Linked DNA regions of Homo sapiens. The protein of the gene in region 3 purifies or fractionates together with the protein of the main gene of each other region. This does not show direct contact. Each region holds a gene or a part of one and is shown on either strand. Other genes may lie near its edges.

What was found.
Region 1: the proteins of GIMAP2 (region 3) and PRMT8 purify together in Homo sapiens (affinity purification with mass spectrometry; 2 studies listed by BioGRID and IntAct, with this or other methods). This does not show direct contact.
Region 2: the proteins of GIMAP2 (region 3) and TOR1B purify together in Homo sapiens (affinity purification with mass spectrometry; 3 studies listed by BioGRID and IntAct, with this or other methods). This does not show direct contact.

The regions. Positions count from the first base shown.
Region 1 is NC_000012.12:3,536,129-3,543,239, reverse strand, and holds part of PRMT8 (protein arginine N-methyltransferase 8), read right to left. Parts: intron 2,635-7,111; coding exon 2,449-2,634; intron 1-2,448. UniProt on the Homo sapiens protein: S-adenosyl-L-methionine-dependent and membrane-associated arginine methyltransferase that can both catalyze the formation of omega-N monomethylarginine (MMA) and asymmetrical dimethylarginine (aDMA) in proteins such as NIFK, myelin basic protein, histone H4, H2A and H2A/H2B dimer.
Region 2 is NC_000009.12:129,798,427-129,806,284, reverse strand, and holds the start of TOR1B (torsin-1B isoform 1 precursor), read right to left. Parts: upstream 3,102-7,858; 5' UTR 3,073-3,101; coding exon 2,874-3,072; intron 2,213-2,873; coding exon 1,947-2,212; exon of another isoform or gene 1,806-1,946; intron 1-1,805. UniProt on the Homo sapiens protein: May serve as a molecular chaperone assisting in the proper folding of secreted and/or membrane proteins. Plays a role in non-neural cells nuclear envelope and endoplasmic reticulum integrity. May have a redundant function with TOR1A in non-neural tissues.
Region 3 is NC_000007.14:150,688,631-150,694,177, reverse strand, and holds the end of GIMAP2 (GTPase IMAP family member 2), read right to left. Parts: intron 1,864-5,547; coding exon 878-1,863; 3' UTR 537-877; downstream 1-536. UniProt on the Homo sapiens protein: The heterodimer formed by GIMAP2 and GIMAP7 has GTPase activity. In contrast, GIMAP2 has no GTPase activity by itself.

The DNA.
Region 1 (7,111 bases), on a different chromosome or scaffold from region 3:
GGAAGGTTACCTAGCTGTTCCTGCATTAAAGGACCTATGAGATGGTCTATAGCAGCAGCAGGAGGGATTTAAGCTAGATGTCCAGAAGTATTTCCCAATGGGAAGGCTGCTAAGCACTCTCCCAGGACAGGAATGTGATCTATGACTCACAGGTCTTATACTCTAAGTCCCCTGCTCAGCCCGCACTATGTTTATATATACGTATGCACAAGCTTGACTTTTCCATAAGTACACACAATTGAGGGAAACTGGTCTAGTATTTATTTGGTGAAACTTGATGTCCTCTCCCCTGGGTGCTGGGTCATGGTGCTGACCAGGCATCGCCTGAATGACTGGATTAGCAGCCATGTCAACAAGCCTTTGCTCTCCAGACAATGTGCCAAGCTGTAGGTAACAGGCTGGGGACACCAAGTCCCAAAGGAATTATAGAGATCGGTAATAGCCTAGTGGAGCACACTCTAAACGCCAAAGGTGTGGCTCAGCAGGAACCTAGCAACTCAGAGGGAGGTGTCCAAGAAGCCGATCACGGAGGCTCCGAGTGGGGAGGGGAGACTGCAGACCCAGCTTGAGGTGCACCTCATGGTTGTTTGGTTTCTAATGGGGGAGTTCTGGGCAGGCCCAAGAGGAGACATTTTGGGGTCCCTGGAACTGCTCTCTTTTCCCAAGAATCTGTCCTGAAATGGGTACCCAGAGCCACAGGCCTGTTAGAACTTGTCACATGGAGAACATGACTTTTAATTAGGGACAAGGTCTTGAGGAAGGGGCCTTCGCAGAGTCTCTTTTGCCCCCAAGAGCCTCTCACAGGCCAAGGATGGGGCTCCAGGAATCCCTAGCCCAGTGGAGAGCAGGGTCAAGGAAGGGGTAAGAGTTCATCCATCTGCCCTGAGATGGCATTTTATCTCCCAGAAGCTGCAGGCTCAGCTGTCCAGGCCCTCCTGGGCCAGGACCTTCTGGACCGAACACAGGCCCCAGTCCTCCTCCCCTGCAGGTCCAGGCTTAATGGTTTTACATGGTGAACAGTTCTCAGGGACCCAAACCTTGAGCCTCCCTGGATTAAATGAGGCTGAGCCCCTGAGTCTAGAAGTAACTGGGGGGCCTCCTTCCACCCTCTACCTCCATGTAGGGCTGCAGAAGAACCAGCAGGAACAAATATGGCAATTTAATTTTTACAGTTTCCAGATGGAAAGAAAGGAAACTTGTTTTAAGGGCTGTATGGCATGATGGTTAGGAACAAAAGGTGAAGGTTTGATTGCTAGCTGTGCCATCTACTAGCTTGTGGCCTTTCACACACGCACACACGCACACAAAAAAACCGTCAAGGATGAATGAGGGTTGATTTGATTCTTAAGGGCCTAAATCATCTGGAGAATGGGGACAAGCAATAACACCAACCTTGCAGGATTGACCTGAAGAATAAATGAACCAATAATATAAAATGCTTGGAACAACACCAGCACGTAGTAAGCACTAAAACGAAACAAACAAACAAAAGAGCTGGCTATTATTACTAAACACCCTTCCGGCAATGGCAGGGTCATCATTTCCACATAGGAAGAGTTTACAGCAGTGAGTACGTGGAAGGAAGATCTTCAAGACTTGTTTTGAAAACCGATTTGCACAGCAAGCAAACTTTTGTTCCTTTTTCAATTTTTTCTTATGCTGTAAGAGGATCACGGACATATTTTCTTCATAGAGTTTAAATGAAATGATACGTATAATGTGCTTAGAACTGTGCCTGTCACTTAGCAAGCACTCAGTAAATCCTACTTGTTTATTTGGGGTGGCTGGAGAGAGTGCTGGAGATTATAATGAAAGATATACAGTAGGGGCACCATTAGGCCCCCACTATGGCCAGGATGCCTCTTGTTAGGAGGTTCTGTTCTGTTCCATAGTCAACATTAGTCTTCCCTGCTATGGGGTAAACTGGCATTTAGACATAAGAATTTCCAGACAATCAATCAGGGTGTCAGACCTGGGCCAAGCTCCCAAGAAAGCTTCCTGCAGCTCTTCCCCCGGAGGTGCTCATTGGTCAAAAGAATGCACATCATGACCTCTGAAAGGTCCTTGCTGCCTCAGGACTCTGACTGCAGCATTTGAGCTCCTGGTCCAAAGACCAGCGCTATCCAGCCCACAATGGATGAGCTGGGTTTATGGCTGGGGAGAGACACGGGAGCTGGAATGTAAAACAAATGGACCGTAAGCACCTTGTGTGCTCTCTCTGGCTGTGGAGTATACAGACACACACTTTCACCTGCTCCCCTGCTCCAGGCCTGGCCTGGCCCCCTCCCAGAGGGGCCCCCCGGATTGGAGAAAGGGTCAGAGGACTCAGGAACACTGGGAGCACTCCCTTTACCATGGTAAGGAGTTGAACACACTATGCTGCCTCTGAAAACAACAGAACAGCAGAGTCAGCCTCGCCCCATTAGCCACCCACTCGGGACACTTTACCTCGTGGATCCCAAAGTGGGCATAGGAGTCGAAGTAATAATCTCTCGAGGTCATCTCCTCTGGGTTCAGCAGCTTGGACATCTTGCCCCGTCCTGGGCAGCTGGGTTGAGTGGACACATGATGGACGCATTGCACGGGCTTAGCAGGGACGACGGGCTGGGGGGGCTGGGAGGGGGGGCTGTTCACCTGAGGGGAAGAGAAGGGGGTCGGGTGTTAGGAGAGACAACGGGGTCCCGCCCTCGGAGGCTTGCGGTCCTCTTTCCTTCCCCCTCCCTGAGCCCGGCCTCAAGCAGCCACAGCAGCCCTTCCTGAAAGGGAGGTAGGTGAGCCCTTCCAGCTCCCAGCAGTTGGGCTCATGGCTGTGATCTGTCCAGAGATGGCAGTCCACCGAGGAGCCACACACACCTAGATTTCACCCACCTTCAGCTCTTATTAGCTAGGTGACCTGAGCAATGCAGGCCTCAGTTTCTGTATCTGTGAAATGGGGAAAATAGTATCTTCCTTTGAAGGCAAATAGGAAACATTCAATAAAGGGAAAGATGCATAGCACAGCATGGTGCCTGAGAGTGTAGATTCCGGAGCTGAATCCCAGCTCTGCCATTTCCCAGCTATACAACTTTGGGCAAACTTATGAACTTCTCAGTGCCTCAGTTTCCTTTTCTCTAAAATGGGAATAAAATGGTCCCTGCCTCCTAGAGTTGTCCTGAGGATTAGACAAGTTTGTATTTCAAAGTGCTTAGAAAAGGGCCAGGCATATAGTAAGAGTTTGTTAGAGGAAACGAAGTCCCACCTGCATCCTCAGGAACGTGAACCCATGGGCTTCTCTCCACTCAACAGGCAGCATCAAGCTAGAAGAGGATACGGCCCCCAAAATGCAGATGTCTTAGGTTCTGGTGTCTCCTACCTGTTGTCTTGCCCCCTAGTTTCTGATTCACAGTTCTACCCTGAATTCAGCACTGTGGATACCCACACTGATGGCCTCCACACAACCAATTATTGCTATTTCTGGGTGCCCCAATCCTGAGGCCCAGCCCAGCTCTACACCCACTGCTGCTGCCCATCACTGTCTGCTCCCTGGTCCTCCACAGGCTAGGCGGAGCAGGGAGAAGGAGATGGGGGTCCACAGAGCTTCTGGAGCCCAGAGACAGCAATTGGAGCCCAGAAGCTCAAACACTGCAACAGAAGCAGTTATGCCAGGAGACCTCCTCTGCCTGGAGTGCAGGAGACCCAGATGTACAAGGCACAGTAAAGGCCTCAAAGCAGGGCTGAACTAGAAAAATAAAAAAAGGAGTATTATCTAGTAGTCAGTCCTCTAGGGCTGGGAATCCAGGCTCCTGGGTCCTATCCTGGCTCTAGTAAAATTAAAAATAGATACTAGGAGGCAGATAGCGAACTGGCTGAAAGTACAAACCCTGGAGCCACAGTGCCTGACTCTGAAACCCAGCGCTTGTTGGCTGTGTGACCTTGGGAAATAATTTGTCATCACTGTGCCTCAGCTTTTCCTCCTCTATAGAACACAAATCATAATAAAACCTACCTGAAAAATTTGTCCAAAAGTTTGGAGGAGTTGATATATGGAAAGACTTTAGAACAGGCTGGCACATAGTAAGTGCTTATGATTATTACATACATCATGTCCTTGTTCTATGTCTCGATTTTCTTGTCTGTGAGCTGGGTCAGCTCAGACTTACTGTCTCCTTTCTAGCAAGAGAAACAGGGGAATCCTAGGACACAGCAAGATCAAGAAAGCCAAGTTATTTCAACCCCTCCGTGGAATCACTCCGCGCAGTCCCAAGACTGTTCTGTGTCCAGGGCTGCAGGGGAGTGAGCTGGGGGCAGTGGGATGGTCCCATCTTCCCAGTGTACCTAGGCTACCGCCCTTGGGAAATAAGCAGACTTCCCAGTTTAGCAACATCAGATTTCACGTCGGTGAGATCCCGGGCGGGCTGGCAAAGGCGAGTGGGGCTGCCTCATTAGAATGCAGCAGGTGTGCCCACTCTCAGCTTGGGATGTTGGTCACGGTCTCTGGGAGGCTAAAAATAGACTGTGTCAAGTGCACACTCCTGTGCAGGCTGCAGAATCACCTCTAAAGCTGAAGAAGGCTCCGTGCATGAAGCTGACCCCAATATCGACTCCATTTAAATATGTGAAGGAGAGGAAAAAGTCGGAGCTGGTCTGGGCATTGTGCATGGTCAAGGTCACAGGGGCCTCCAGCACCCCTTAGCTGTCACTCCACTCTGGTTCCAAGGCTCTCTTTTCCATGTGCTTCCTGGGACTCCACAGGCTAAGACTCCCCGGAGGCTGGGAGTGGGTGGGAAACGGCAGTGGCCTGTGATCCCTGAACATTCAGCGACATGGGGTGTTGCTTTTAATTCCACAACTGCCTACTGCACAGATCTCCAACAGCAAGGCAGCGTGCAGGTCCTGTGGAAGAAATAGACGTGTGGGAACTGTGCCCTCCCAGGACCCTGTTTTCTAGATTCTAAGACCCTTATTGTCTCTGATAGATGCTGGAATAAGGTTTGTTCTACAAGAGAAGTTCAAGCAAATTGTTCTGGAGGTTCACAGGAAAGAGAATTCACTTTAATGCAGAGAGTCAGGAAGCCCTGGGATAGCAGGAGGTGGGGTGAGGTGGGAGCTTTTTGAACGGATTTTGGCAGGTGGAGGAAGAGACGGCTTGAGCAACCAAAAGGCGGGAGAGCAGTGAGTTTGTTTGGGAGCAGCTTGGCTGAGACAGTGAGAGATTCAGTTGAAAGGAAATTATGGCCAGGCTAAGAGGTCGTAATTAAATACAAAAGACAACGGGGAGCTATTGCCGGTTTGTAACCAGGGAAGCAGTGACTTCTGTGTTTGGGCTCCTCTTTAGGAAGATAGATGTGGTAGCAGCACACAGGAGGGGCCAAGGAAAAGAAGGGAATGGAAGAGAGGCAAAGTATGAACTTTGGAGGCTATGTTCAAAGTCCAGTCAAGAAATAATGAGAGCCTGAACTACTGGGGTGTCCGAGGGGCTGCCTGCCAGAGAAAGTGCAGAAATAGACTCTACAGGCTTTGGCAACTGACAAAATGTAGGGGAAGAGAGAGGAGCTGGAATCAAAGATGACTTCAACATTTCAAGCCTGGGTGACTAGGGAAATGGTGGTGACATTAACAAAAATAAGCCAGTCAGCAGGCAGAGCAGGTTGGGGTGGGGGGAAATAATGAATTTCAATTTGGATATGCAGAGTTTGAAATGTCATTGAGTCATATAAGAGAAGATGTCTAGCAAGAAGACATTAATGCAGTTCCAGACAATAAATATCATAAACAAAATTAAAAGGCAAATGATAAACCGAGAAGTACGTTTTAACATATGTGGCAGACAAAGGTTAATGCCCTTAATACGTAGAGAGCTCTTACAAGCCAATACAAAAATAGATGAACACCCACAATGTAATATTGGGGAAAGGATTGGATAATCTGTCCACATGAGGCAAGTACATGTGAAATACAAATGGCAGGTTGATGTGCAACAAAAATGTTTAACCTCATTAGAAATCAGGTAAATTCAAATTCAAATAGAAAACTTACAGCTTTTAAATACCAGATAAGCTCTTCTCCCACCAAAACAACCACAGCTCTGCATATGTAAGAGTTGCAGAGAGATAGGTCCTTTCACACATTTCTAGTGGGAATGAAAATAGGTCAAGACTTTTAGAAAGGCCGTTTGGTAAAATGTACTTGAAGTGTTAAAGAGCACAAATCCGTTAACCCAGCAATTGAAGTTCTGTGGACTTTACCATAAGAAGAGAATCATGGATCATCATAATGATGTAGCTGTTGAGAATTTCATGACAATGCTGTCCTTAGTGACAAAAGGTAGGAGTCAACTGAAATGTTCCACAAAGTGAGACATTAAACTGTGGTGTAGCCACACAATAGAACACTATGCGGCCATTAAAGGTATTATGGGAAGAGTGTTTGATTACACAAAAATATGATCATGACAGATTGTTCCACCACTTCCAGGCTGCCCTTCCTCCAAGGATGTGTGGCCCGAGCATTGCACTCCGGTGTCCAAGCAAGGGCTCCGAAACAAAGTCAACCTCCATCCAGCCTGGCTGGGGCCCTCCACACCTCAGCCACCAGGGAGGACCCTGCTCAGGAAGCTGTGCAGATCACCTCACCTCTAGGGCTGAAGAAGGCTGTGTGCATGAAGCTGACCCCAGTATTGACTCCATTTAAATATATTAAGGAGAGGAAAAAGTCCTAGCTGGCCTGGGCATTGTGCACGGTCAAGGTCACAGGGGCCTCCAGCACCCATAAGCTGTCATTCAACTCTGATTCCAAGGTTCTCTTTTCCATGGGGCTCCCTGAGACTCTCCCCAACAGCCAGCTTATGAAGTGTCTGCCGTGTGCCATGCAGGAGGCAAAAGGATGCATGGATTTGGGGGCATTCATTTCAATAGCCACAGGTCATGGGGACAAATAAATGACTGGCCCAGACCCTGGTCTGCAGCCTGGCACTCTGCCCATTGGCTGACAGGCATACCCTCTCCCTGAAGGCTGGGAGTGGGTGGGAAGCAGCCGTGGCCTGTGATCCCTGAACATTCAGCTACATGGGGTGATGCTTTTAAATTCTACAACTACCTGCTGAACTTCTACAACAGCAAGGCACTGTGCCAGC
Region 2 (7,858 bases), on a different chromosome or scaffold from region 3:
GAAGAATGTAAAGAACAAGAAAATCCTTCCTTCCTTCCTTTTTAGCAGTCTTCCCTGTCTCACGTCAGTTTGTTGGGCAAACACTTCTACTTCCTTGTTCAGTTAAGTTTCTATTTCTTTCTTCAGTCCCCACCTAACAGGAGGAATTTTTTTTTTTTTTTTTTGAGATAGAGTCTTACTCTGTCGCCCAGACTGGAATGCAGTGACATGACCATGGTTCATTGTAGGCTCAGCCTCCCGGGCTCAAGCGATCCTCCCATCTCAGCCTCCCAAGTAGCTGGGACTACAGGTGCATGCCACTACACCTGGCTAATTTTTTTATTTTTTGTAGAGATGGAGTCTTGCTATGTTGCCAGTGGGAATGTTAACCTTGACAAGGACAACATTCATTTAAATGAGAACTAACCCTCCTAGACAACTTAATATAAAATGAATGTGGAAACAATATCTCAAAAGGAGAAACAGTCTCAAGGTTCAGTTCTTTGAGGCTTCCTTTGAAGAAAGCAATGCCAAGGACATGAAGGATGGGAGGAACAAAGGGAATAAAACCTGTTAAGGAGAAAAAAGACCTCTAGGCTACATTGCAAAGAGCAGAGGCAAAGCTGAGGCTGCACCAGAGGTGGGCAGCATTGAATGAAGCCACACCGGAGCAAATCCTTGAAGACTGACTGCCCCTTCTCACCAACTGCACTGCTGGGGATGTGGAATCCCTTCACTCACCAGAGAAGGTGGCTACCATGTCAACTGGGAGTTGGGAGGTTTTGGTTCTGCTACAAAGGTCCTGTTCTGCTACAAAGATTGTAGGAGTAAGTCACCTTGCCTCTGGGCTCCAGGCTCCATCTTTTTTTTTTTTCTTTTTTTTTGAGACAGAGTCTCATTCTGTTGCCCAGGCTGGGGTGCAGTGGCCCATTCTCAGCTGACTGCAACCTCAGCCTCCCAAGTAGCTTGAATTACAGGCGCACGCCATCACGCCCGGCTAATTTTGTATTTTCAGTAGAGACGGGGTTTCTCCATGTTGGTCAGGCTGGTCTCGAACTCCCGACCTCAGGTGATCCGCCCGCCTTGGCGGATCCCAAAGTGCTGGGATTACAGGCGTGAGCCACTGCACCTGGCCCTGACTACATCTCTCTTTTTTTTTTTTTTTTCTGAGACAGAGTCTCACTGTGTCGCCCAGGCTGGAGTGCAGTGGCGCGATCTCGGCTCAGTGCAAGCTCCGCCTCCCGGGTTCAGGCCATTCTCCTGCCTCAGCCTCCCGAGTAGCTGGGACAACAGGTGCCCGCCACCATCCCCGGCTAATTTTTTGTATTTTTAGTAGAGACGGGGTCTCACCGTGTTAGCCAGGATGGTCTCCATCTCCTGACCTCGTGATCCGCCCCCCTCGGCCTCCGAAAGTGCTGGGATTACAGGCGTGAGCCACTGTGCCAGGCCTTTTTTTTTTTTTTTTTTTTGAGACCGAGTACGGTGGCGCGATCTCAGCTCACTGCAACCTCTGCCACCCAGGTTCAAGCGATTCTCCTGCCTCAGCCTCCCAAGTAGCTGGGATTACAGGTGCGTGCCACCGTGCTCAGGTAATTTTGGTACTTTTAGGTAGAGATGGGGTTTCACCATGTTGGCCAGGCTGGTCTCAAACTCCTGGCCTCAAATGATCCGCCCGCCTCGGCTTCCCCAAAATGCTGGGATTACAGGCGTGAGCCACGGCGCCAGGCCCTTGGCTCCCCATCTTTTAATGGAAATAACATCCCCTACCCCACTGGACTGTTTTGGAACCAAGTAAGAGAAATGTTGTAGGAGAGCTTTGTAACTACCTGGACTAAGTGTGCCTTAACTCAGTGGAGCCGGGGGCTACAGCAACACAAAGGAAAGAGAAGCAGAGGCCAGAGTTAGTGAGCAGGTCACCCGGACCAGTCCGACTGGCCTGCAGACGAGATAATAGCGGGTTCTCTTGCCTGGTACAGTTTTATCTTCTGCTCATGAGGGAAGTGCAGAGTCGATACAAACAGGTGGACAAAGTTACTCTTCAGACCTTTTGGGTGAAGATTTTCAGCCACAATTTGACTGACAAAATTCTTGCCTGTGCCAGCCCAGCCGTGTAAGGAAAGGGTCAGTGGTTTCTTGGGATTTTTGTTGTTCCTGAAGCCAGTCAGCGCCTTGAAAATCACTTCCGTGGCTAGATGCTGTCCAAACAGCTTCTCCTCCAAATCCAGCTTGAGAGCTGCAAGAACAGCCCCAGAACAAAGAGAGAAACAGACCTTAAAAATGCATCAGCAACGCAGCACTTTCTTAGCTGGCCAAAGCAAGAAGCACAGATTATCCAGGGACACAGCAGGGTGTCTGCCACACCCTAGGGCCGAGGCAGTCAAACGATGCCACTTTCAAGATTATGTGGAGGTCCTTAACGCTTCGGGGTCTGATAAGGAAGCTAAATGTTCATTCATTCAGAGATGAACCATCGCTTGACTGAGCGCTTGCTAATCCCAGCCACCCTTGCTGACCTGCAGGAAAACCAGGGGCCAAATGTGGGCTTTCTGGGCGACGCAGCACGTCTGAAAACTACTTAATAGGGTTGGCAGGGCGCAGAAGGGCCGCCCGCCTACTTTCCGTTTCTTCCACCTGTGATCCCAAGGAACGGGAGCTTTAGAAAGGCGCTGGGGCAGCCCCACGATCTGGAGACTGTTTGCGAAGGCACCGCTTCTGCGTTCCCGCGAACGGTTCCGGGGCCGCCCCATCCGCTCCCCGCCCACCCCAGCTGGGACCACCGCCGTCTAGATGCCACGGGCCCGGTCCGTGCCAGGCGCCCACGAGGCCGTCCCTCCGCGCCCCCGCGCCCCCGCGCCCCCCGCAGCGCCGACCCACAGCTCGCGCGCGCGCCGTACCCGAAGCGTTGAGCGGCCGCTCCTCGCGGCAGCACTCGGCGAAGCGGCAGTAGATGTCATTGTAGGACAGGTAGCCGGTGATGGCCGACGCGGCCCCGATGGCTAGGCCCACGGTGATGGGCTCGAACGCCGCCACCACTCGGGCCGCCAGCAGCAGCGCCAGCGCCGCCGCGCCCCGGAGCCACCCAGCCCGCAACATCCCGCTCCTCGAAGCCCGCAGAAGCCACTGAGCCAGGCGCCCCGCGGCCAAGCGGCAGGACGGACTTCCTCTCGTGCGTCACTTCCGCCCCGCAGACCCGCCCACTCCCTTGGGGGCGGCCATGTTGGTGAGGGGCGGAGAGGAGGGCGGTGCCATCGTTCTTGGGAGTGGTCCGAAGGTGTAGGAGACTGTTTTGTTTCCCTTTTCTTTTAAAAAAATTTTTTCGGGCCGGGCGCGGTGGCTCACGCCTGTAATCCCAGGACTTTGGGAGGCCGAGCCGAGATCACGCCATTGCACTCCAGCCTGGGCAACAAGAGTGAAAAAATATCTAAAAAAAAAAAAAAAAATTTTTTTTTTTTGGCCGGGCGCCGTGGCTCACGCCTGTAATCCCAGCACTTTGGGAAGCTGAAGCGGGCGGATCACCTGATGTCAGGAGTTCGAGACCAGCCTGCTCAACGTGGCGAAACCCCGTCTCTACTAAAAATACAAAAAATTAGATGGGTGTGGTGGCGGGCGCCTGTAATCCCAGCTACTCGGGAGGTTGAGGCAGGAGAATCTCTTGAACCCAGGAGGCGGAGGTTGCAGTTAGCCGAGATCGTGCCACTGCACTCCAGCCTGGGCGACAAGAGCGAAACTGTCTCAAAAAAAAAAAAAAAGGCTGGCCGGGCGCGGCGGCTCACGCCTGTAATCCCAGCACTTTGGGAGGCCGAGGCAGGCGGATCACGAGGTCAGGAGATCAAGACCATCCTGGCTAACACAGTGAAATCCCATCACTACGAAAAATAGAAAAAATCAGCCGGGCATGGTGGCGGGCGCCTGTAGTCCCAGCTACTCGGGAGGCTGAGGCAGGAGAATGGCGTGAACCTGGGAGGCGGAGCTTGCAGTGAGCCGAGATCGTGCCACTGCACTCCAGCCTGGACGACAGAGCGAGACTCCGTCTCAAAAAAAACAAAAAAAAGCCAAAAAAAATTTTTTTAAACTTTCTTATATTTTTTTCTTATCTGATATGTATATTGGGGACAGGGTCTGGCTCTGTCGCCCCGGCTGGAGCGCAGTGGCAGGATCTCGGCTCGCTGCAAACTCTTCCTCCCAGGTTCAAGCGATTCTCCCATCTCAGCTGCTGGAGTAGCTGGGATTATAGGTGCCCGCCAACACGCCCAGCCAACTTTTGTGTTTTTAGTAGAGACGGGGTTTCGCCATGTGGCCCAAGCTGGTCTCGAACTCCTGACCTCAAGCGATCTACCTGCCTCCGTCTTCCAAAGCCTGGGGTTACAGGAGTGGGCTTATGGCTGGATTTGTTTTCTTCAGAGCTTCTCGGAGCCCTCAAGCTTTGCTTTGTTATCCCTCCCTTCACTTCGCCGGAGGTATAATGTGCGTTTCTTGGGTCGGCCCACCCGCCTGCCTTCTTCCTGAAACAGTTGCGAACTCTCCGTGCTGCGCCCTAGACTGAGCACTGGGGATGCAGCGGCCCCAAGACAGACCTGCCCAGGCTTCCACACTGAAATCCCGAGGTCCATTCTTTCATTCAGCACGCTAGGTGGCAGGCCCCTTGCTGGATGCCAGGAACGACAGCAGAGGAGGGGACGGAGTTGGCCCCTGCCCTCTCAGAGCTGACGGTCTATGGGGGAGGCCGACAAAGGGGTGAGACTCAATGCTGAGTGGGCAGAGAAGTATCGGACAGTGGTACAGGGAAGGCTTTTGTCTAAGCTGGGCACTGAGGGAGTTAGGCCAGGCAAAAAATGAGTAGAGTGTTTTAGGCAGAAAACAACAGTCAGTTTGGAGAACTGAAAGGATTCCACATGGCGGAAGGTGGTGAGAGATAGGGATGAAGAATCAGGCAGAGACTGGAAGGTGAAGTCCTTGCGAATGTTGTAAGGAGTTTGGCCTCTGTTCTGGGGGGTAATAGGGAGCCACAGAGGGTTTTACACAGGAAGCAACATGGTCAGATCAGAGATCATTCTGGCTGCTGGGTTCACAAGAAATGGAAGGCAGAGAGCCAGTGAAGAGGCTGTTGCCGTGGTCCAGGTAACTAGTCAGGGAGACAGATGAGCAAGCAGGCAGCTTATGTCCAGGGTGGGCCAAGGCTGTAATGCAGGATGCACAGAGGCCTGTGGGTGGGGAGGGATCTTCTCCTCCCTATCTCAGTTGCGATCTAAAGAATGAATGGAAGGGCCAGGTGCACTGGCTCATGCCTGTAATCCCAGGACTTTGGGAGGCCGAGGCAGGCAGGTCACCTGAGGTCAGGAGTTCGAGACCAGCCTGGCCAACATGGTGAAATCCCGTCTCTACAAAAAATACAAAAATTAGCCAGGTGTGGTGGTGCGCGCCTGTAATCCCAGGTACTCGGGAGGCTGAGACAGGAAAATGGCTTGAACCCAGGAGGCAGAGGTTGCAGTGAGCCAAGATTGCGCCACTGCATTCCAGCCTGGGCGACAGAGCAAGACTCCGTCTCAAAAAAAAGAAGAAAAAAAAAAAGAATAGAAGTTGGCCGTGGGAAGTGGCTTAAACTTTTTTTTTTTTTGAGACAGCAGCTCACTCTGTTGCCCAGGCTGGAGTGCAGAGTGCAGTGGCATGATCTCAGCTCACTGCAGCCTCTGCCTCTTAGGTTCAAGCAATTCTCCTGCCTCAGCCTCCGAGTAGCTGGGATTACACGTGTGCATCACGATGCCCAGCTATTTTTTTTTTTTTTTTTTTTTTGAGATGGAGTCTCGCTTTGTCACCCAGGCTGGAGTGCAGTGGCATGATCTCCGCTCACTGCAACCTCTGCCTCCTGGGTTCAAGCCATTCTCCTGCCTCAGCCTCCCCAGTAGCTGGGATTACAGGTGTGCACTACCATGCCCATCTGTTTTTAGTAGAGACGGGGTTTCACCATGTTGGCCAGGCTGGTCTCGAACTCTTGACCTCGTGATCTGCCCACCTCGGCCTCCCAAAGTGCTGGGATTACAGGTGTAGCCACCGCGCTCGGCCTACTTTTTGTAGTTTTAGTAGAGATTTAGTAGAGATGCAGTTTCACCGTGTTGGCCAGGCTGGTCTGGAACTCCTGACCTCAAGTGATCCGCCTGCCTCGGCCTCCCAAAGTGCTGGGATTACAGATGTGAACCACCACTCTTAGCCCACAAACTTTTTATAAGTAATTAAATAACTAAAAGTGTATGGAAAATGTATCTCTTAATAGGATGGTTGGGGTTCTCTTTTTTTTTTCCATTTACTTCATATATCCATAGGAAGAAATTACTAAGTGACTTTTCCCCTTTCCAAGTAGCCAGAGTCCAATGGGAAAGGGGAAATGAGAAGGAGCATGGGGCCGCTGGGGCCACCGGTGCCATACCCAGGGAGGAAAGAAGAAAGAGGTTGAGTTTCTGGAATTAGGATCCTTAGAGTGATCCACTCTTATGCACCCTTAGGAAGTCTTCACCTACCTCAGAGGGTCACATACCCCAGGCTGAAGAGGCCTGGCCTAAGGCAGGAAAGTCCCACCACAAGGAATGTCACCACCACTGCCCGAAAGAGTCAGGCTGTCCCGGCATCTCTCCAAGGGCCGTCTAACAAGCAGCCTGGCACCCAGGGCCATGCTGTCTGTCTAATTGAAATGCTTCTCCAGCTGACCCTGAGGACCAAGAGGCTGCCTTGGACAAGTCCGGTGTGTTCATCAGGGCGCAGCCACGTGGGACAAAGGGGCAGCTCTGCTGTCTCCAGAGGCTTTGCAGCATCAGGAGTTGGGAGGGAGAAGAGGAGGTTGGGATTATAAATCACAACCTGGTTTGTTCCCTTTCTTCCTAGCTGAGTGGCTCTGGAAATGTGATGCCACCTTTCTGGGACTCAGTTTCCCTAACTGTAAAGTGGGGATCACAACAGTCCCTTCTTGGAGTTGCTGGGGTACCAGTGAGCTGATGCACGTGGAGCACTTAGCACCGCATAGAGTAAGAGTTCAACAGGAACCATTTGCTGGGACTATCACCTCCTTTGACCCTCTCAACCATCCTGTGAAGTTCACAAGTCAGGAGAGACAGTTTAGCTCACAAAGGAAATGTTTGTTGTCTTTAAGGATTATACCGGGGTGCTGGCAGGATTTGATGAGTGGTGTTTAGATAGATCTGGAATTACAAAACTCAGTAACTGATATTCATCAAGCAAAATACACACGATGTCCTGCAAGACACAAGTGGATTGGTGCCATGGTTAGTCTCCATTGTGGTGGTCGTAAGAGGTGGAGCCTTTTTCGAGGTGATTAGGCCAAGAGGGCTCTACCCTCATTAATGGAATTCATACCCTTATAAAAAGGGCTTGAGGATGGGCGCAGTGGCTCACGCCTGTAATCCCAGCACTTTGGGAGACCGAGGCGGGCGGATCACAAGGTCAGGAGATCGAGACCATCCTAGCTAACACGGTGAAACCCCATCTCTACTAAAAATACAAAAAATTAGTCGGGCATGGTGGCATGTGCCTGTAATCCCAGCTACTCGGGAGGCTGAGGGAGGAGAATCGCTTGAACCCGGGAGGCGGAGGTTGCAGTTAACTCAGATCATGCCACTACACTCCAGCCTGAGCGACAGAGTGAGACTCCATCTCAAAAAAAAAAAAAAAAAAGGCTTGAGGGGCTGGGCACAGTCACTCACGCCAATCATCCCAGCATTTGGGGAGGCAGGTGGATCATTTAAGGCCAGGAGTTCAAGACCAGCCTGGCTAACATGGTGAAACCCTGTCTACTAAAAAATACAAAAAATAGCCAGGTGTGGTATCGGGTGCCTGTAATCCCAACTACTCGGGGGGCTAAGGCAAGAGAATC
Region 3 (5,547 bases):
GAAGATTTGTGTTTGCTTCTACTGGCTGTCAATAATTCAACTAATTTTGGATAACTTTAGTCTCCTGGAAGGTCCTAAATTAATACAGAACACTCCAAATCAGCTCTCCAATTTTACTGACAGCCCAAGATTGATTTCTTCATCTTAGGATTGGTACCGGCATTTGTCTATCGGTCACCTCTGCCTTCCTTGTTCATGTATTCCTCATGGGCCTCAACTCCAGTTTGTGCTCCTCATTTAAAAAAAAATATTGTTTGCTCTACCTTTGGAATTTTCTTTATTTTTCTGGTGAACTCATCAATTATAAAAATTCTGTTTCTTTTAATAAATGTAGCCTCTATTTGCATCTAGCAAGATGATGCTTCAGAATATCCAGTCCAATTTGCTATCTTTTCTGACATTTGTCTTTACTTATGTTTCAGTGATAAATCTGTAGGACGTCAGGGCTAAAATCTGGCTAACATGAGTCATGTCCACTTACCATTTTCTAAGGAGAAAACTATAGAAGAGAATTAACAACATATGATCAAAGGAACTTTACAGTTTATGTAATATTATTTTATTGCCATTTTCATTATATTCAGTAGAAATAGTAGTACTAGAAAGAAGAAAATGAGATTTTAGGAACATAAAACTGGCTTTAGATATTTGAAAATGAGAGGAATTTTATGTTTACAGATTTCAAAAGGCTTTGATATTATATTTCAATGCAAACAGTAACTTATCGTATGATTTGGTTCATTAATAATTGGAGTGATGTTCAGATTTAAACATTTCATAGAATCTCAAATATGACTTCAGGTACCACATTTTACAGGGAAATTACTGTGATTCACCCACTAAATGATAGTGAGTAAATAATAACTGGGATCTGTAACTATAACCTAGGAGTCTTGCGTTCTAGTCTAATAACTGTTCTCAAAAATATCATTAACTTTTTGGGTATAATAAACAGCAAACTGCAGAATAAATTGCACATACTAAAGAGTAAGCAACAAAACAAATTGCACATGCTGTGCAGTATGCAAAGCCACAGAATTATCAATCTGAGAAACAACTGAATACAAAATAAAACACACAGTTGTGTTTTGATTAAGGCTCCTTTTAGGCAGTTTGCTTCAGCCAAGGCTGTGTAACTTCTTTGAGTTTCCATGTACTTTATAAGGCTCTGTTTGAATTCCTTTACTCTTTCATCTGATCCCACAGGTCCACATTTAGACCTCTGTATTAGGCTGTACAACCCATTGGTATAGTGATCACCATTTTTCTCCATCAACAGATCCTCAATACAGTCCATTAGTTCCTTCACTTGGTCATCCTGATTGCTCCCTTCAGCACGGTTATTAAAGGCACAGATTCGCCCACCACATGCTGCCACCAGCTTGCTTAGGGCTTTGTTATCTGAGTCGTGCATGTAATCCATCAGGGAGCCACCATTGAGGTCTTCCTTGTGGGTAAAGAGGACAATTGTGTGTCCCATGGCATCCTCTCCAAAGATCTCCTTCACCCTCTGTGCAGCCTGCTGGTCCTGTGAGGTATAGCGGCCCAGCTGAGTCACCAGGAGCAGCACATGGGGTCCTGGTGCAGACAGCAAGTAGCACCTCTGCACCTCTTTGTACAGAGCTTCACAGTGGTCCTTCCAAGAAAACATATCTGGTGTGTCAATAATGACAATCTCTCTATTTCCCCAGCTTCCCTGACTTTTGCTGCAAGTCTTAGTCAAGGTCTGGGAACCCAGCTTCGATTCAAATGCTTGCTTCCTGAGGATGCTGTTCCCTGCAGCACTTTTGCCAGTTCCTGTTTTGCCCACCAGGATGATTCTCAGCTCAGATCTGCTGGCACATTGGCCCTTTGCATGTGGTCCTGTGAGGAGCAAGTTTACTGTGTTATCGCTACACTGATCACGGCAGTGGAATATTTTTTTTTCCTTTCATTTCTTTTTCTTTTTTTTTTGAGACGGAGTCTCGCTCTGTCGCCCAGGCTGGAGTGCAATGGCGTGATCTCGGGTCACTGCAAGCTCCACCTCCCGGGTTCACGCCATTCTCCTGCCTCAGCCTCCCAGTAGCTGGGACTACAGATGCCCGCCACCGCATCCCGCTAATTTTTTTTTTTTTTGGTAGTTTTAGTAGAGACAGGGTTTCACCGTGGTATCGATCTCCTGACATCGTGATCCGCCCGCCTCGGCCTCCCAAAGTGCTGGGATTACTGGCGTGAGCCACCGGGCCCAGCCGGTAGTGGAATATTTTTAATGATAAGGAGGTATTCCCCGTTATGTAAAAAGATACTCGCACATCTATTTCACGTGAAATGAAAGCTAACTTGATTGCTGTAGGACTGCAGGGTATTGCCATGTTGGAGCCTAGGAAAACATACTTGGGGATGAGATGGATTTAGAGACATTTCTCATCATGTAATGGTTGCCTGAATCACTCAGTCCTGGATCTCTAGAAGAAAAGTTTTCTGGAGATCAGAGATGCGTAGGCAAGGCCATGGGTTCCATCTCAATGTGGGCCAAGTGACCTGGCTCTGTTTCAAGGCCAGAGGTTGCTACTTTGACCTTGGCTGGGCAGAGTGGGGTCATGACTACCAGGGAAGTGGCTGGACCAGCAAAATATTAGAATGAGCAGTGTAAAATTATTTTTATTAGTGAAGAAACAACTGATATCTTATAAAGGATATCATAATTTTGCTTAGAAAGCATGGCATAATTTTGGTATAAAATAGTCACAGAATATGGTAAACTTTCCTCTCTCCTTCCCCATTTCCCTTCAACGTGGGTAAGGTTCTGGGGAGAGGAGTGAATGGGGACAGAGGTATGAAGGAGCTTGAGGCTTTAGGGAAAAAATGTGTTTCAGACACATAAAAGGGGAAGGCATAGGAGCCATGGTGCCATTTCGCTGGTCCACATGGCAGTGATAAGAATGACTTGTCTAGGGCAGGTTCATGGAAGAACCAAGATGCAGCTTTGTAGTGGAGAGAGGAGTGATTTAACTTGCAAGGCAAGGGTGACTCTGGCTCTTGAGGGTTAACCCCTTGATTCCTTTACTGTAAGGGAGGAACATTTGACCTATATGAGTGAAACGGAATACCATGATAACAGGAGAATCTTTCTGGAGGGAATATCCAAACAAACTAAGACTCTCCTGCTAAGCTCATTGCCTTTTGCGGTTTAGCTGTTCCTTACTCTCATGTTGCAGAGAGAAAGTTGGAGAAGGAAAGTCTACATTGACCACAGAATATCAGAGCTTAGAAGGAACTTAGACTGTACAAAGAAAATGAGCTTTCTGAGAGGCAGCATGCAGTGGTGAAGAAAAAAAGAATCTGGAGCTGGATTGCTTAGTTTAGATTGTCTTTCCATTGCTAGTCATATGATCTTGGACAACTGATTAATTTCTCTTCATCTGGAGAAGATGATGGTTTACTCCATGTGGTGGTGTTCTAATGACTAAATAAGTTAATATATGTAAAGAACTTAAAAGAGTGCTGGTGCACTTAAGCACTTGGTGAAAATTAGGCTAGGATTGTTTATAGCAACCTCCTTATAGATGAAGTAACTTGCATGCAGGGGTTAAGTAACTTGGACAAAGTCACCTAAATAGTTAGTGAAATCTACCCTTTATTGAGCACTTTTAATGTGCCAGGATCTGTTCCAAGTGGTTTACCTGCATTACCTAATTTACTCCTCCTAGCAATGATATGATTTAGGGTTAGGTGCTGCAATGCCCACCAGTGGTCTTGTTCTTAGCTGGTTCAAATGACCTCTCGGGCTCACAGGACTGCCATGGGCCTCACTGGGACACTAGTCTACTCAGAAGAATGGAAAACTTCGCTTGCCAGAGGGACAATGTTGGGCCTTCCACCTAGTGGAAGTCTATGCAGCAATTCATGGAACACTGCAAACTGTCACCTAGGGAGGTCCCAGGGCAAGGAGATGGCATCTTGAGCAGTTATAGAAGCCACCTGGACTCACAGGAGCCAATGTCTCTTGTAGCAACTCTGGGGTTTAGCTTCCAGATTCCCTGCAAGGAACATGAGAGTTACAAGAGTCACTGTGCTCAGGGAAGTTCAAAACATAGCTTCCTAGCATGTATTTATAGTTCTTCCAGTATAGATATAATTCACCCATCAAGAGAAGTTTTCAACCATAAGCAAAGTTCCTAATAATGTTAGAGACATTTTACTCTTATTAAATTATTAGAGAATCTCAGCTAAAACATTTAACCAAAGATTAAATTCTCAGAAAGGGAAAGGGTTTGTCAACCTTTTTACCCATGGGTTCCTTTTATTCACCTTATTTTACACATAAATCTGCAACTTGCCCAATAACTTAGAGCCCATTAAAAGTAACCAGTTTTGTAAATGAAAAAGCTGGCATTTGAACCTGCCCGTTTTCTATGCCTGAAGTATTAGTGCTTTGCCATGCTGCTACGCCAACACTTGTTGCACATATTTAAGTATTTTCTCTTCCAGACAAATTGGCCAAAATTTATGGACATTTAATCTTATTTTCTGTAGGCCAGTGAAATTATGGCCTCACAGTAGACATGCAATGGACACTTGTACTTAAAAGGAAGCAGGCATTACATTACACATTTCTATATTCTGAAAACAGCAGCCAAGCAGCTCCTGATACACCGCGCTGGAGCTTGCTTAGAGGCAGCCAAATTGCACGTTTAACCTTCCTCTCGCCTATGAAAACAGAAATGAAGGGAGTCATTGAAGAGAAGCGGTGGGAGTCCTGAGTTGCTGGCCTCCTAGGGAGTGCTACCTCATTCTCTCCCATGGGGAGGGTATAGGGAAGAGAATTCTCTGCATCCAAAGCCAAGTGAGAGGGTCTCTAAATCATCCACTCATAAATATTGGGCATGTCACCAAAGTTGAGAGATAGGTAGGTCATTTCCCAGATGGGTGTCTGCTGAATGACAGAAACTGGTAAGCCTATCCAAGTGCAGCAAAGTGAAGAGAATTCTTGAGCAAATTTTTGAGAGGAGTTAGATGTAACCTGAAGTTTGGAGACATGTATAAACATGGAAATTGGTGTCTATTTCCTTTCTGGAGAATTCTAAATTTTGAAGGCTGACTAGAGCCACCTAGGAGACCAGGATAAGGAGTAAGCAGCAATGGCTTAGGGGGTTTCCCATGGACAGAAGGGATCTTACAGAAAATAACTAGGCACAGCTGCCTTGATGAGGCCCTGTCCAAAGGCCTGCCTTGTATGGCAAGCGGAGTGCAATTACAAGAGGAAGCCAGGGGTGCCATGAGGGTGGGAGCAGAGGTCTAGTTGGAGAATTCTGCCAGAGAGGGCGCAGCCTCTGGCGGGAAGCCTGCAACTTAGCCCTGTGGCGACTCCACAGTGTTCTCGCACAGTGGAGGGTGTCTGCTGTAATGGGGCATGGGATGGCGGTGAGGACTAGCCAGGAGACAACTGCAAGGACAATGGGACTCAAGCACTCCACCTTCTTTCTCCAGTCACCCATCCTCCTGCCTGATGGGGAAGGAGGGACTAGCATGAGGGTTGAGGGGGCAGAGCTGGAAGGGAGAGGAGGA